Linked DNA regions of Homo sapiens: region 2 is linked to region 1. A link means that fine-mapping ties the variant in region 1 to the expression of a gene that starts in the linked region. Tissue or cell type: whole blood. Region 1 holds a variant in brackets; the other region holds the start of a gene. All regions are shown on one strand. Distances are from middle to middle.

Region 1 (8,193 bases):
TGTATGTGTGCATGTGTGCATGCACAGAGCTCCATGCAATTATATCATATGTGAAGATTCATGTAACTATAACCACAGTCCAGATACAGAGCTGTTCCACCACAAGACTTCCTCCTGCTATCCCTATAGAGTCACACTCATCCACCCCAATCTCTAACCCTTGGAAAATAGTAATCTGTTCTCCTTCTCTATGCTTTTGCTATTTCAAGAAGAAATAGCAAAATTCACTATATGAATAAAATTGCACAATAGCTAACCTTTTGTGATTGACTTTTTTCCCACCCAGAATAACTTGGAGATCCATCCAAGTTGTTGGTGTAACAATAGTTTGCTTCCTTTTATTGCTAAATAATATTCCATGATGTGGATATGTGCCACTTTATTTAACCATCAATTTGTTGAAGGACATCTGGGTTGTTCTGGTTTTTGGCTACTGTGAATATAATCTGCTATGAACATTTACATACAGGTTTCTGTATGAACATAAATTTTGATTAATCTGGGATAAATGCCCCAAGAGTGCTATTGCTGGGTTATATGTCAACTTTAGTTAGTTTTGTTTTTGTTTTCTTTCCAAGAAACTGCTCAATTGTTTTCCGTAGTGGCTGGTACCAGTCTACATTCCCAATGTCTCATACATATGGGTAATGTATGAGCAATACAGTTTCTCCAAATCTTCACATAATTCTCCAAATCCTCACCAGCATTTCCAAATCTTCATCAGCATGGGGTGCTGTCACTATTTTTACATAAGCCTTTCTGATAGGTGTGTAATGCTACTCCATCCTGGTTTTAATTAGCATTTCCCCAAGGGCTAATGAAGCTGAGCATCTTTTCACGTGCTTGTCATCTGTATGTTCTCTTTGGTGAACTGTCTGTTCATGTCTTTTACCCATTTCTGTTTTTCTTTTTTTTTTAACTATTGATTTTTGAGGGTTCCTTATAAATTCTAGATCCAAGGCCTTTGTTGGATATGTGCCCTGCATATAGTTACTCTCTAGCTTGTTTTTTTTTTTTTATCCTCTTCATTGGGTCTTTCACAAAACATAAAATTTTAGTTTGCTTTCCCTCTGAGATCAGTGATGGCAACAACGCCTGCTCTCACCACTCTTATTCAATATAGCACTTGACATTTTAGTACAGCAATAAGACCAGAAAATAAGTAGGATGTATACAGATTGTATACAGATCAAAAAGGAAGAGACAAATCTATATGCACATGGCATGACTGTCTATGTAGAACACACTAAAGAATCTAAAAAAAAAAAAACCTACAAAACCTCTAAGAGCTAATAAGTAATTTCAACAAGATCACAGGGTACAAGATCAACAAATGAAAATCAATTAAATTTCTACGTACTAGCAATGAATATGTGGAAACTGAAAGTACAAACACAATACCATTTACAATTGCTCCAAAGAAAATGAATAGGGTAAATTTAACAAAACATATACAAGATCTATACACTGAAAATGACAAAATGCTGATGCAAGAATTCAAAAAAGACCTAAATAAATACACTTACCATGTTCATGGATTGGAAGATTCAATACAGTAAAGATATCAGCTCTCTCCAATTAAACTACAGATTTAAAGTAATTTCCATCCAAATCCCAGCAAGTTTTGTGTAGATGTAGCCAAACTAATTCTAAAATTTATTAGAGAAAGCACAGACCCTAGGATAGCTCAAACAATTTTGAAAAAGGAGAATAACGTGGGAGGAATCATTCTATCTGATGTTAAAGCTTACTATATCACTACAATAATCCAAAGGGTGGTACCGGCAGAAGGATAGACACACTAATCAATAGAACAGAATACGGAACCAGAAATAGGCCCATACAAATATGCCCAATAATTTTTGACAAAGGTACAACAATAATTCAATAGAGGAATAACAGAATTTTCAATAAATGATATTGAAACAACTAGCCATCAATAGGCCAAAAAATGAATCTTCACCTAAATTTAATAATTTATTAACTCAAAATGGACTATGGACTTAAATGTCAAATATGAACTTACAGAATTTTCATAAAAGAACACAAAAAAATTATTCAGGCCCTCAGCTAAGTGATGAGCTGTTAGACTTGATATCAAAACATGATCCATAAAAGGAAAAACTAATAAAATACAATCTCATCAGAATTAAAAACTGTAACTTCTTTAAAAGCATTTTTTTAATTATAATTTAAGATTAGGCAAATTATGGAAATACATTTGAATTACTAATTTTTAATCAGTTTACTGACTATAAAACAAGCATGACTGGACTGTTCAGTTAAGAAAAGACACAGCTTTCCAAATGTGGCTGTAGTGGTTAACCAAATAATGAAGATGGAAGTGACTGCAATGAAATGAAGACAAAGAGTTATATAATTTTCACTTGGAGTTATGATTCCTCATATATTGAGTTTTATAGTCATTATTGATTGTGAAGCTCTAAAACTACACTTGTGTTATTTCCAAAGATGTACTGGTTAACAAAGCAAAGGAACCATTAAGACTTATTTGTAATTTACATAAAAAATAATTAATTCAAAGATAAAATAATTATCTTAAAGAGAATTAGATTAAAAAGACAAGAGAGGACTTCTGGTTCCAAAATAACAGTGTAGAAGCAAGCTGGCTTCACTTCTTTACAAAGAAAACCAAAACCAAATATACAGCACTGAAATTATCACCAACAATATCCCAGAAATCAAATACGAGGAGAAGACAGTTCCTGGATCCACAGAGATGGGAAAAAAACTCTAAGTAGGCAGTAAGAGAATTGGGTTTCCACATCTGCAATGCCCATTTCTCCAATTTGCCCAGCACCAAGAGTGCAAAAAATCTCCACCTGATTCATGATTTCTATACCAGAAAAGGTGACATCCAGGTTTCCCACCATCTGGGTTACCTGGCAGGAAACCTGTCCCTACCTCAACCCACAGGAAGCACTACATGTGCCTGAAGAAAGAAATACCCTGAGAAGAGTCAGAAACAAACAGGTGAGGTGGGACTACCATCCCCAGCCCTGGAAACTCTGGTCTGTAACTCAGCTAAAGGAGATGCCAAACCAGAGTGGTTGTTTAGTAGCACCACATTGCAGAAGATACATTGCACAGGACCCCTGGGCATGAATCTCTAGCCACCTTTCCCACACTGCCATGATATCTCCTTTGAGACTTTCCCTAATTGGAATGAGCAGCTCTCTTATTGTTTACTGGAGCCAAGGCAAACTTGGTCGTAAGGTGACATCTAGTGCCAAAAAGAAGGCAGCAACTTAGCCCCTCACCAAAAAAAAAAAAAAAAAAAAGAAAAAAAAAATTCGACAGGTAAATTACATAGAATCTATAACCAAATACATTCAATAAAAAACAAAAATAAGCCAGACAGAGAACACTGGAATAAATAACTAATCCTTCATTCAAAGACATCAATACAAGATATATATTTCTTGCACATCCAGAAGAAACTGCAGTCAACACAAAACCATGACCTCCCCAAATGGATAAAGCAAGGAACCAGTGACTGACCCTCATGAGATAGCCATATAAGAGCTCCCTGATCAAAAATTCAAACTAGTATTAATAGCTTTGAGGAAACTCAGAGATCTCCAAGGTAACAGAACACCAATTCAAAAATTTATTAGACAAACTTAACAAAGAGATTGAAATAATTTAAAAATCAAATAGAAATCTTGGAGCTGAGAAATATATTAGCTGAACTGAAAAATTCATTACAGCCTCACAATAGCAGAATGAATCAAGCAGAGGAAAGAATCAGGGAGCTTGAAAACCGGCTACTTGAAAATGCAGTCATAGGTGGAAAAAGAATAAAAAAGAATGAAGATCATCACCAAATATAGACAATTACCTCAAAAGACCAAATCCAAAAATTACTGGTGTTCAAGAGGGAGTTGAACAAGAGCAAGGGGTAGGAAGCTTATTCAAAGAAATAATAACAAAACTTTCCAAAATGCAACAGATATAAATATTCAGGTATAAGAGCATCAGGGCCGGGCGCGGTGGCTCACGCTTGTAATCCCAGCACTTTGGGAGGCCGAGGCGGGC[G/A]GATCACGAGGTCAGGAGATCGAGACCATCCTGGCTAACACGGTGAAACCCCGTCTCTACTAAAAAAATACAAAAAAATTAGCCGGGCGTGATGGCGGGCGCCTGTAGTCCCAGCTACTTGGGAGGCTGAGGCAGGAGAATGGCGTGAACCTGGGAGGCGGCGGAGCTTGCAGTGAGCCGAGATTGCGCCACTGCACTCCCGCCTGGGCCACAGAGCGAGACTCCGTCTCAAAAAAAAAAAAAAAAAAAAAAAAGAGCATCAGAGAACACCAAACATATTCAACCCAAATAAGGCTACACCAAAGCATAAAATAATAAAACTCTCAAAGCTCAAGGATAAAGAGAGGATCCTAAAAAGTAGCAGGAGAAAAGAAGTAATTAACATATAAAAGAGCTCCAATTCATCTGACAATTGACTCTCAACAGAAATCATATAGGCCAGGAGGAAGTGGGATAAATTTTCAAAGTGTTGAAAGAAAAAAAAAACCTGTTATCCAAGAACACTATATTCAGCAAAGGTACTTTTAAATATGAAGGAGTGATAAAGTATTTTTCAGATAAACAAAATCTGAGGATTCAACAGCAGCAGACCTGACTTACAAGAAATGCTAAAGCGAGTTCTTCAGAAGGAAAATAAAAAAATACAAAAAACCACATACACATTCAAAAAGAAAACTTTTCAAGGCATAAAATCCACTGGTAACATTAACAACATGGACAAAACCAGAATACTCTATTATTGTAATGATGGTGTGCAATCCATGCCTAACTCTGGTATGAAGCTGAAAGATAAACTCATAAAAAGCCGTAATAGCTACAGCAACCTATTAAGAGAAAGGTAATATAAAAATACACAAATTTAGATAATAAGCAGTTGAAATGTGGTGGGGATGGAGTTAAAGCATAGAGAATTTTTTTAAAATTTTTTCTTTGTTTCTATTCTTTACTTTGTGATCTAAGATAAGTTGTCACTTCTTTAAAATAGCTTATTGAGATCCACTCAAGGCAAAAAGAACTGGGAAGTCCCCACAGCTGTCTGCTGGGCAGAAAACCCTAGGCTATGGGTGCCACATCAGCTATACACCCACGGCAACACCGCCCTGCCTGGAGATCTCACACCCCTGACCTACTGCATCAACAAACCATCTGTAGGTCTACTGCACAATTAGCTCTGACTCCCAAGCACAGAGGATCAGCAGGCCTCCAGTGTGCTGTGGATCTCCTGGTGACCTAATCTTTGGCTCGAGCTGCCCCAAGGGAGGAGAGAGCACAGGCTGCCAGGGTTCCCCTTGGGGTTAAAGAGATGTGGGCATGGTGCCAGTGACTGGAGGGGGCTCCCCTAAGGCCTGGAAATGGACCTGGCAGGGGATCATCGCTACCCCTTCCCACCACCCCCACTGCTGCAAATGTGCTGGAATACAAAAGAGCCATGTGACTGAGAGTCTATTTGCCGGCCATTATTCTCAAGCACCATCTACTGGATTGAAGCCTAAATTACAACACCCCAAACTCTTCCAGTATACACTGCCTGTGAAATCCAGTGCCAGAATCTAGCCACAAGTATTAATAAATATCCCATACAGAGTGTTGGCCCTCTGAAAGCACCCAGAAATAAAGCCAACTGACTATACTCAGCTTATGCTACAGTCAAACCCACAAGGGATACAAAGAATATAAAAACAAAAAGCCTCATCGAAATGATAGCAAATTCAACAAGATAAAAGAACACGTGCCCTCTCAGAAGAGAAAGATTTAATGCAAGAACTTTGGCAATTCAAAAAGTCAGTGCCTCCTTATCTCCAAACAATTGTACTAGCTCGCCAGAAATTGTTCTTAACTAAATTGAGATGGCTGAAATGACAAACATAGAACTCAGAATCTGGGTGGTAAGGAAGCTTAATGAGATTCAGGAGACAGCTGAAACCTAATCCAAGGAATTTGGTAAAATGATCCAAGAGTTAAAAAGTTGACAAAGCCATTTTAAGAAACAAACAAACTGACCTTCTGGAATTGAAAAATTCACTACAGAAATTTCATAATACAGTTGGAAGCATTAACAACGGAATAGACCAAGATGAGGAAAGAATCTCAGAGCTCAAAGATTGGTCCTTCAAATCAATTCAGTCAGACAAAAATAAAGAAAAAAGAATTTCGGGCCAGGGGTGGTGGCTCATGCCTATGATCCCAGCACTTTGGGAGGCTGAGGTGGGAGGATCTCTTGGGGCCAGGAGTTTGAGACCTGCCTGGCCAACATGGTGAAACCCCATCTCTACTAAAAATACAAAAACTAGTGAGGCTTGGTGGCACGCGCTTGTAGTCCCAGTTACTCAGGAGGCTGAGGCATGAAAATTGCTTGAACCTGAGAGGTGGAGGATGTAGTGAGCTGAGATCACGCCACTGCACTCCAGCCTGGGCGACAGACCAAGACTCTGTCTCAAAAAAAAAAAAAAAAAAATTGAAAATGAACAAAACCTCCAAGAAATAAGAGATTATGTAAAGAGACCAAACCTATGACTCACTGGCATTTCTGAAAGAGAAGAAGAGTAAACAACTTGGAAAACATATTTGAAAATATAGTGCGCAAAACTTTTCCCAATCTCACTAGAGAAGTCAATAGGCAAATTTAAGAAATTCAGCAAAGTCCTGTGAGATACCATACAAGATGACCATCCTCAAGACATATAGTTAACAGATTCACCAAGGTCAATGCAAAAGAAAAAATCTTAAAGGCAGCTAGAGAGAAAGGTCAGCTTACTTACAAAGGAAATCCCATCAGGCTAGGAGTAGACCTCTCAGCAGAAACTTACAAGTGAGAAGAAACTGTGGACCTATTTTCAGCATTATTAAATAAAATAAACTCCAAACAATAATTTGATATTCTTCCAAAGAAAGCTTCATAAGCAAAGGAGAAATAAAATCCTTTTCAGACAATCAAAGCTAAGGAAATTCATGAGCACTAGACCAGTCTTACAAGAAGTCCTTAAGGAAGTGCTAAATGTGGAAATGAAAGAACAGTACCTGGCACCACAAAAACACAAGTACATGGCCCACAGACACCATAAAGGAGATACACAATCAAATCTACAAAGCAACCAGCCAACAATGTGATGACAGCATCAAAATCTCACATATTGATATAAACCTTGAAGGCAAATGGTCTAAATACCCAACTTAAAAGGCTTAGGATGGCAAAATGGATTAAAAAAATAAGGCCCAACCATATTCTGTCTTCAAGAGACCCATCTCACATGTAAGAACACCCACAGGCTCAAAGTAAAGGGATGGAGAAAGATCTATCATGCAAATGGAAAACAAAAGGAAAGCAGGGGTCACTATTCTTATATCAGATAAAACAGACTTTAAACCAACAATGATCTAAAAGGACAAAGTAGGGCATTACACAGTGACAAAGGGAAAAATTCAAAAAGAAGAGTTAACTATCTTAAATATACACACAGCTAACATTGGAGCACCCGGATTCATAAAACAAGTTCTTCTGGACCTATGAAAAGACTTAGTCACACAATAATATTGGGAGCCTTCAACACCCAACTGGCAGGATTAGAGAGATCATCAAAGCGAAAAATTAATTAATAAAGAAATTCTGGTCTTAAATTCAACACTTGACCAATTGGACTCAATAAATATCTACAGACTAGTCCACTCCAAAACCATAGGATATACAGTCTTCTTATCTGCACATGGAATATACTCTAAGATCGACTATATGCTCAGCCATAAAGCAAATCTGAAAAAGATTAAAAACACTGAAATCATCTCAAGCATACTCTCAGACCACAGTACAATAAAAACAGAAATTACTACCAAGAAGATCTCCCAAAACTACACAATTACTTGGAAATTAAACAACTTGCTCCTAAATGACTTTTGGGTAAACAAATGAATTCAGAAATCAAAAAAATTCTTTGAAATTAATGAAAACAGAGACAAAACAAATCAAAATCTTTGGGATGCAGCTAAAGCAGTGCTAAGAGTATAGTTTATAGTGCTAAATGCCTACATCAAAGAAGTTAGGAAGATCTTAAATGAACAACCTGATGTCTCACCTAGAGAAACTAGAAAAAAAGAACGAATCAATCCCAAACTAGCAGAAGAAAACAAATAACCAAAATC
Region 2 (8,193 bases), 82 kb after region 1:
AACATAAAAATGCAAAGGAAAACCATACGAAATACTGCTACATACCTACTAGAAATGCTAAAATCAAGCACACACACACAGTCCAATACAAAGTGATTCTGGTGAGGATGTGGAGCAAATGGAATCTCATGCATTGCTGCTGGGATCTCTACTCATCATCTTGCTTTATTTTTCCCAAAACCACTTTTTATTACCTTAAAGTTTGCTTACCCATGTAAGTCCATATATATCTTCTCACATGTTTATTGTCTATCTTCCCCAATATAAGTACTATGAGGCTGGCAACTTGGTCTGTCCTGTCATCACTGTGTCATTCTGGCACCAAGAACAGTGTCTGGCAATCTTTACATATTTATTAAAAGTGAGGAAGGGGTGGAAAGAAAAGACACTAAGACATCTATAAGTGAATATATGAAGGCAAGGAACCCAGTCACAGCCATCTACAGAGGAGCGTTAAGAGAAAATTAATTTAGACCACCAGGAAGCTGCATGTTGTAATGCATGATTCCCAATTTCAGCTGCACATTAGAATTAGCTGGAGAGCTTTGCAAAATCCCAATTCCAGGCCACACCAGACCAACAAAATCTGAATCTCTGAGAATGGAACACCAGCACTGGTCATTTTTTTTTTTTTTTTTAGACGGAGTCTTGCTCTGTTGCCACGCTGGAGTGCAGTGGTGCCATCTTGGCTCACTACAACCCCCACCTCCCAGATTCCAGTGATTCTCCTGCCTCAGCCTCCCAAGTAACTGGAACTACAGGTGCATGCCACCACGCCCAGCTAATTTTTGTATTTTTAGTAGAAATGGGGCTTCACCATGCTGGCCAGGATGGTCTTGATCTCTTGACTTCGTGATCCGCCCGCCTCAGCCTCCCAAAGTGCTGGGATTACAGGCGTAAGCCACCACACCCAGCCAAGCACTGGTAATTTTAAAGTTCCCAGGTGATCCCAGTGTGCACTCAAAGTTGAGAATCACTGAAAAAATGGAACCTAGACCTTGGAAATGTACACAACTGAGTGTGCAAGCTACTTAACCTCCCTTAGCCTCAAAATTCTCATCTACAACATGGGAAATATATGTACCTCCCAGAGTTGCTGAAATATTGAGATTCTATATAAGGCTCTCAGGAAATGTAAATTCTCATCCCCAAGGGAAACTTGATCAAATCTTCATAGCTTAGGGTAAGAAATGCTAATTCTACCAGCAATTCACATTTTTCATTGTTAGCTGATTATTTTATTGAACATTTACATTGAGGAAATTCAGAAATGCTCATTTTTCCACTTTCCTGGTGGTAAGATGCTGCCTGAAGCTATGTTTAAATTTTCAAGAGTAAATAAACTATGGCGGGAAATCTAGCTGACTATGCCAGTGAATCTCAAACCTAGCTGTACATTAGAATCATCTCAGAAATTTTTTTAAAGAAACACACGTATGTCCAGAACTCACCAGGCCAAATTAAATCAGAATCCCTGGGGTGGCTCCAGAATATCAGTATTTTTTAAAAAAGCTGATAGAAAGGTAATTGTAAAACACAGTCAGGGCTTAAAAGCACTGATTTGTACTAACGATATGCCATGCTAACTGCACATCACAGTCACTTGGGGAGCTCTTAAAAAAGTTGATTGATTCCAGAACCCTACCGAGACTTACTGATTCAGAATCTGTGGAAGTGGAGCCTGTCATTGTGCAAATCTTCATAAAACTCCCCACTGGTGATTCTGATGCAAACTCACTGAGAACCACTACTTTGTATCATACATTTACTCTACGTGTTGTATATCAGAAAGATCATTTAAAACTTTCAGTGGTCTCAAATGCCAAGCCTGCCAGTTACTTTTAATCAGTAACTGACACAACACATCACAGTAACTCCAATGACTTTACAGATCTTTTCAGAACACTTTTATGTCCAGCCCACTGACCCACATCACCTACCCTATGCTGTGCCAAATACTGGCTATGTAGTCCGTTGGTATTTCTAACCAAATTCCTCTAAATGGGCTGCTGATCTGGGAAAAGCAACATGGAATCACATTACTCCCCAAGCCTTATTCCCCTTTGCTAAGTGGTATGTAATGCCAGGATTAATGAAATGAACTCTATTGGTCAAATGAGTCTGAATGAAATCTGAGTTGTTGTCTGCTCCTGGAAGCAAACTGTTATCTATTTGTTTCCCTCAGAGAGATAAACTCAGAGGAAACAGGAGTGATCCCTGAGGTGGGAATAATATAGTGGGCTGCAATTTTAAAACTCTGCTTAGACAATAACAGGACACTTGGAATCTTATTTTGATAGATCAAACCAATCAGTATATACAGCACCATGGTGGTACTACCAGGCAGGTGATAATAGTAGCATTTAAACAACCAGGCACTATATTAGGCATATTAAATATATTAACTCATGTGATTCTCAACTGCGATGATAATAGCCCTATCAGGCAGGTACTATTATTATTTCCATTTTGTCAAAAAAGAAACAAAGGCACACAGAAGTTAGATGATTTACCCAAAGTCCCATAGCTACTAAGTGGCAGTTTTCTGAAACCAGGCAATCTGGCTTTGGAGTCCAACATCTTAAGTACTCCACTGCAATGCAGATGAGTGATGGCCAAGCAGTTTAAAAAAAAAGAAAAAGTTATTGTCTGCAGTAGAAACTGGAGGTCAGGGTATGGGTACCTTGGGCAAATTACTTAACCTCTTGGAGCCTATTTTTGCATCTGAAAAATCAGGATAATAATTGTACCTGCCTTGTAGAGCTGAGGTGATGATTAAACAAGATTAGGCATGTGATGTGCTTAGAAAAGTACTTGGCACTTTTAAGAGCTTTCTGTCAGCCATTATTATTATTTGTATTTTAAAACAGCTCAAGTGGTCAGGGAGAAATGAAAATCTATTAAACTGAAAATTTTCCTGCCAATCTTAGATTTGTAGATTCTGTAGATTACCAGTACATCAGATCCAATATGAAATGCAGTCATAAAAGATTTTCACAAAAACTTAAGGACTGTCACTGTGACAAACCCCAGCCCAAACAGTCCAGGACAATGGCTCTAAAAAGCAAACATCTTCAATTATCAAGCTGTGTACATGTAAACACAACAGGAACCAGACTTCTGAGTAGCTGCAAACTGCAGTTCTCTGTGATGGGAGAACATGCCCCAGAACAGCCTGTCAAGTGGTAATTGCCAGCCATCCTCAGTCACATATGTATAAACAGAAAAGAAAAACAAAACGAGGGCTCAAATAAAAAGCGTTAACATTCATTAAACGCCTGACACTCTATTAAATGTTTTTCATGCATTACCTTCTTTAATCCTCACAACACCCTTCCAAAGTTGAACATGAAACAACCACACTGGTTTATATCACTTTAAATGTAAGACTACACGTCTCAAATGGGCCCTGAGCACTGCCTGGGAATCCAACTCTATTTCTCTAGTACGCTCACTTTCACCCTCTCTAGGACTCTGTCACATATCTCTCCTCCAAGTTCCCACACCTTTCCTCTCCCCCGCTGCCCTCCCTCTAAGCTGATGGATGCCTATACCAATAGACTCTTTTCCCACCACCCACTGTATCTGCACCTGTTATCTCAGCTTCCCCTCTAGTTACAACAGAGTAAGTGTCCCTGCTCATTTCAAAACCAACTACTCACCTGCTTAGGGTCTTCTCCTTTCTCAGGTATTCAACAACTACCCTTTACAATGTTCCCCTCTTTCATCTGCAGCAGTTTTTCCTTTCTACGAGTTTAATCACATTGCCATATAAACATTCTGCTTTCTTCTATCTTGAAAAAAACTCTACCCAACCTTAAGGCCCCTCTTCCCCATTAAAGTTGTTCTTGTCAAAATGATTAAAATCCTCCTAATTACCAAAGTCATCTTATACGGTAACATTCAACATGGTTGACCACTACCTCCCTCCCTTTTTTGGCTTCGCCTCCTCTTCTTTGTGTACACTATTAAACTAGATGTCTTCACCAGTCCCATATATTTTAAATACTATGTACAGTATATGATGCCGATTCCAAAGGTTAACTCTAGCCCGACATCCTCCAGAACTTCAGATTTAAATTTCTAAAAAGCACATTTGATATCTCAACCCAAATATCTACTAGATAATTTATGTGTGTATATTTCACCATACTAAAAAAAACTACCAGGTGACTGATAAATGGAGAGAAGGTGAATAGGTAATGTGAAAAATCAAATGTGCTAAATATTCATGGCACCTGTAGGTGGTAGGTGGTCAGAGTCCTCTGCAAAATTCTTCCCAGCTATGCTTATGTCTTCTATTGGGAAAAACCTACTGGGCATCTCAAACCTAACACATTCAAAACATAAGTACTGATTCCACAACTTCCAAAAATGAAACCTACCCCATCCTACAGTTTTCCTTGAGTCAAGGCTAGCATATGAGGGCCTTGGCATATGGGGGCATTGCCTATCGCGTTCATAGATATTCTGAGCTTCTAGAACAGCATCTGGCACACAGGAGGCGTTCAAAATAGCTGCTGAATGGATTGATGAATTCATGTTCTTTCTTTCTAGGTCCCTCGACCTCCACCCGCCCTTGAGTCATTGGGAAGTTCTGGGCTGTCTCAGCGCCTGATGATGGCTTCTTACCAATCATACCACACGGCTGCTCCTCAGGGAGTTGGTGGCATTCCCCTACCACAGAGCCACAGGGTTCCTGTCCCGGTCCCGTCTCGCATAGGCGCCCCAACACGCGTCACAGTGCAGCTGGCATCACACGGCCAGAATCACGTCCTGCCCTCTGGCTGCAGCGACACTACTTCACAGCTCAGGCCCACCCGGGCAGTCTCCCGGGCCAGGGCCACAACCCACGCCTTGTGACCCCTGCACGTCAACGGCATCTTCCTTCTTCACGCCCGCCCTCCCACAGCCCGGCGCAGCGGCCTCCCGCACGCCCCCTGCCCACCTGGCCCCCAGCCACCTTTCCTCACCTGGGCCTGCGGGGCCGCCCCAACTGTCCCGCTGCAACCCCAGCAGCCTCGCCAGTTGGGTCCACGCCTAGCCTGCCGGCCTTCGTCGCTATCCAATCCCACCTGCGCCCGCGAGCCTGCGCACTGGAGCTTTGCCCTGCGCCGCGGCACTCTGCCCTGCGCCGCGGCCCTCTGCTTGCCAGGCCGGGAGAGACAGAACCTGCCTCTACCGGTCTTCCAAGGCACTGAGAGCCCATCGCCGCGGACGCCGCTGTAAATTCCCTGCGGGCCCTGTGCACCACCCTGTGCGGGTCCCCCTCTCCCAGGCCAGGCTGATAATGTCAACAGCTCTCTGAGCTATGCTCATATCCTGAACCACTGAGGACTGTGTTCTCCAGGAATGCTCGCCTGACCCACGCCTGCCCTCTAAGCCCCTAATGAGGCCCCAGAGGGCTGGGGTGGGGGGGTCTCTTTGTAGTATCAGAGCAGGGCAGATAGGCAAAAGGAGTCAGAGCCTGTGCCAGAATATGAGGTCAGTTGGCTGCTAGGTCAATTAAGACAACTTCAGCAAGGGTGGTCAATGTAGAGGGAATTCAATCGTTGGCATTGCCTGAAAACAGGAAGCCAGAATCTTTTTATCTTGACGAACAAACCTCTATTCATTGGTCCTGACCTGAGCCACTTTGGTGAATCCAGATACCCTGAAGGTGTGACAAGACCTGCCTCACTTATCCCCCAGCCTTCAGTGCTGGTCCCACAGAGAGCCATATGCTTGAGCTGAACTGCAGTTAAGCAGTGACAGCTACCCTCTGTCCAGGCTCTGAGGCCAGCCTTCTGCTCCGTGAGTCACTGACAGTGAGTCTCTACAGAGACTTTTTCTTTCTGTAGCAGCCAAGGTACCCTGCAAGCAACCCACGCCATTGCCATATGTCTTAGTTTGTTTGTGTTGCTATAAAGCAATACCTGAGGCTGGGTAATTTATAAAGAAAAGAGGTTTGTTAGTTTCACAGTTTCACAGGCTGTAAAAGAAACATGGCACCACCACCCGCTTTTGATGAGGGCCTCAGGAAGCTTCCACTCATGGCAGAAGACAAAGGAGAGCCAATGTGTGCAAGACAGAGGAAGAGAGAGAGGTGGGAGGTGCCAGGCTCTTTTCCATGACCAGTTCTCATGAAAACAAAGACTAAGAACTCACTCAGTTCCATGAGACTAGCACCAAGTCATTCATAAAGGATCTACCCACATGACCCAGACACTTCCCACCAGGCCCCACCTCCAACATTGGGGATCAAATTTCAACACTAGATTTTATTTATTTATTTATTTATTTTGAGATGGAGTCTCGCTCTGTCGCCCAGGCTGGAGTGCAGTGGCGTGATCTCAGCTCACTGTAATCTCCACCTCCCCAGTTCAAGTGATTCTCCTGCCTCAGCCTCCCCAGTAGCTGGGACTACAGGAGCATGCCACCATGCCTGGCTAATTTTTGTATTTTTAGTAGAGACGAGGTTTCACTGTGTTGGCCAGGCTGGTCTTGAACACCTGACCTCAGGTGATCCGCCCGCCTCAGCCTCCCAAAGTGCTGGGATTACAGGCATGAGCCAACGCACCCAGCCCAACATTAGATTTAGATGGGACAAATATCCAAACTATATCACCAGGGTAAGATTCCCCTTTAAAGATGGACCCCATGTCTAATGTTTCTTCATAGTGCCTAACATCAAGATTCTGCACTGGTCATCATTTCACAAACATGAGCAGCATGGCTGCTCCAAGACACACAGAGGGAATAACCCCCATTCACATCACCAGGAAATCCTTGCATGGAGGCTAAATGAACAGTTGGTAAGAGTGGACCCTGAGGTGTCATTCCATCTCCCCCAGACTTCCTGCTTGACCACACAATATTCCCAGAAGCCAGTGACCCAGAAGGCTCTTCTTGGCTTTCTGTCCTTTTACCTGTGAAAAATTCGAAGAACTATAAAGTTTAGGGCCCATCACAGTTTACTACCCTTCTTTGGAGGCCTCTTTAAACCCTTGAGTCTTACCAATTACCAGTAGCACTAGGAGCTTTGCAAGCCTGGCCTTAAGTCCCTGCTTTGCTACTGAATAGTTGGTGACCTTTGGCAGGTTACTTCCCAACTTGTGTCTCAGTTTTCCTTTTTTTAAAAAAGGAGACACAGTTGCAAGTGTTTAATGAGACAAAAAACAGAAGCATTCATCACCACGCCTGGCAGTGAACACTGCTTTTCTTGCTCAAGAGGTTTGAGCCATACGCTTCTCTAGGTCTGTGACTCTCCCAGAGTTTCTGGGAGTTCCTCTGTGAGCAACAGACCCACTGCAGTCTCCATACTTCAGGGGTAAGCCTGGATGCCCTTCACACATCAGTCTGGATGAGTTCATGCACCACTCATCCAAAAGTGAATCCAAAAGTGATTCCAAAAGCAGAGGCCAGAGATCTAGTTGCTAATGTTGCCTCTCCTCATGGTTCTAGGATTCAGCCACACAGGGCTTCCCATTGCAGCTTCAGGTCCTCCTCACTCCCCAGTGCAGGCCCAGTTTCACTCTCAGGTCCTCCAGCCCAGGCCTCAGTTCTGCCTCTTTTAGTCCATCCCTCCAGATCCACTTTCCAACAGGGCTGGGAAGTCGCTTGGTTGTCCCCTGCCTGCTGCACCACAGCCCCCAGACACCGCCTCCTTATTTCCTGCATGGTCCGAGGCTCAATGCTAATCCCTGGGTGTCTTAGTCTGTTTTGTGCTGCTATAACAGAATTCCTGAGCCTGGATAATTTGTAAAGAACAAAACATTTTTTTCTCACAGTTCTGGAGAATGGGAAGTCCAAGATCAGGTGCCAGCATCTGGTGTGAGTCTTCTTGCTGCATCCTCCAGAGGAGAGGAACATTGTGTCCTCATGTGGCAGAAGGCAGAGAGCAAATAGGAAAAAGGAAGGCAAACTCACCCTCTTCTAATAGCATTAATCTCACCCAGAAGGACAGAGTCCTCATGGTCCTTTCACCTCCCGAAGGTCCCACCTCCTAACACTGCCACAGCAGCAACCAAATTTCTTTGAATATTAATACATGAGTGTGGGAGGGGACAAACATTCAAATCATCACACTGGGAAGGCTCAGCTGGAGGAGCAGAATTGGCCAGCACAGGGAGGTAATGCTGGGTTTGGAATTTTTGTCTTTGCAGTCCTTGGCCTTGATCCGGATACCCAGACGCCCTCTGAGATGGACCTTGA

What was found. PIP is the estimated chance that this variant, and not a neighbour inherited with it, causes the effect.
Region 2: it holds the start of PTPN20, and the variant in region 1 is fine-mapped to the expression of PTPN20 in whole blood (TOPMed, PIP above 0.99). The same link has a PIP of 0.9 or more in lung.

What each region holds. Positions count from the first base shown.
Region 1 is chr10:46,990,443-46,998,635 of GRCh38, reverse strand. The region is part of intron 9 of PTPN20 (protein tyrosine phosphatase non-receptor type 20); the gene reads right to left. Among named protein-coding and RNA genes, the nearest start is that of PTPN20, 83 kb to the right of the region's middle. The variant G/A (reference allele first, on the strand shown) is at 4,060.
Region 2 is chr10:46,908,282-46,916,474 of GRCh38, reverse strand. It overlaps PTPN20 (protein tyrosine phosphatase non-receptor type 20), which reads right to left and starts at 5,047. Exons shown (of 11, transcript NM_001042357.5): 1 at 4,974-5,047.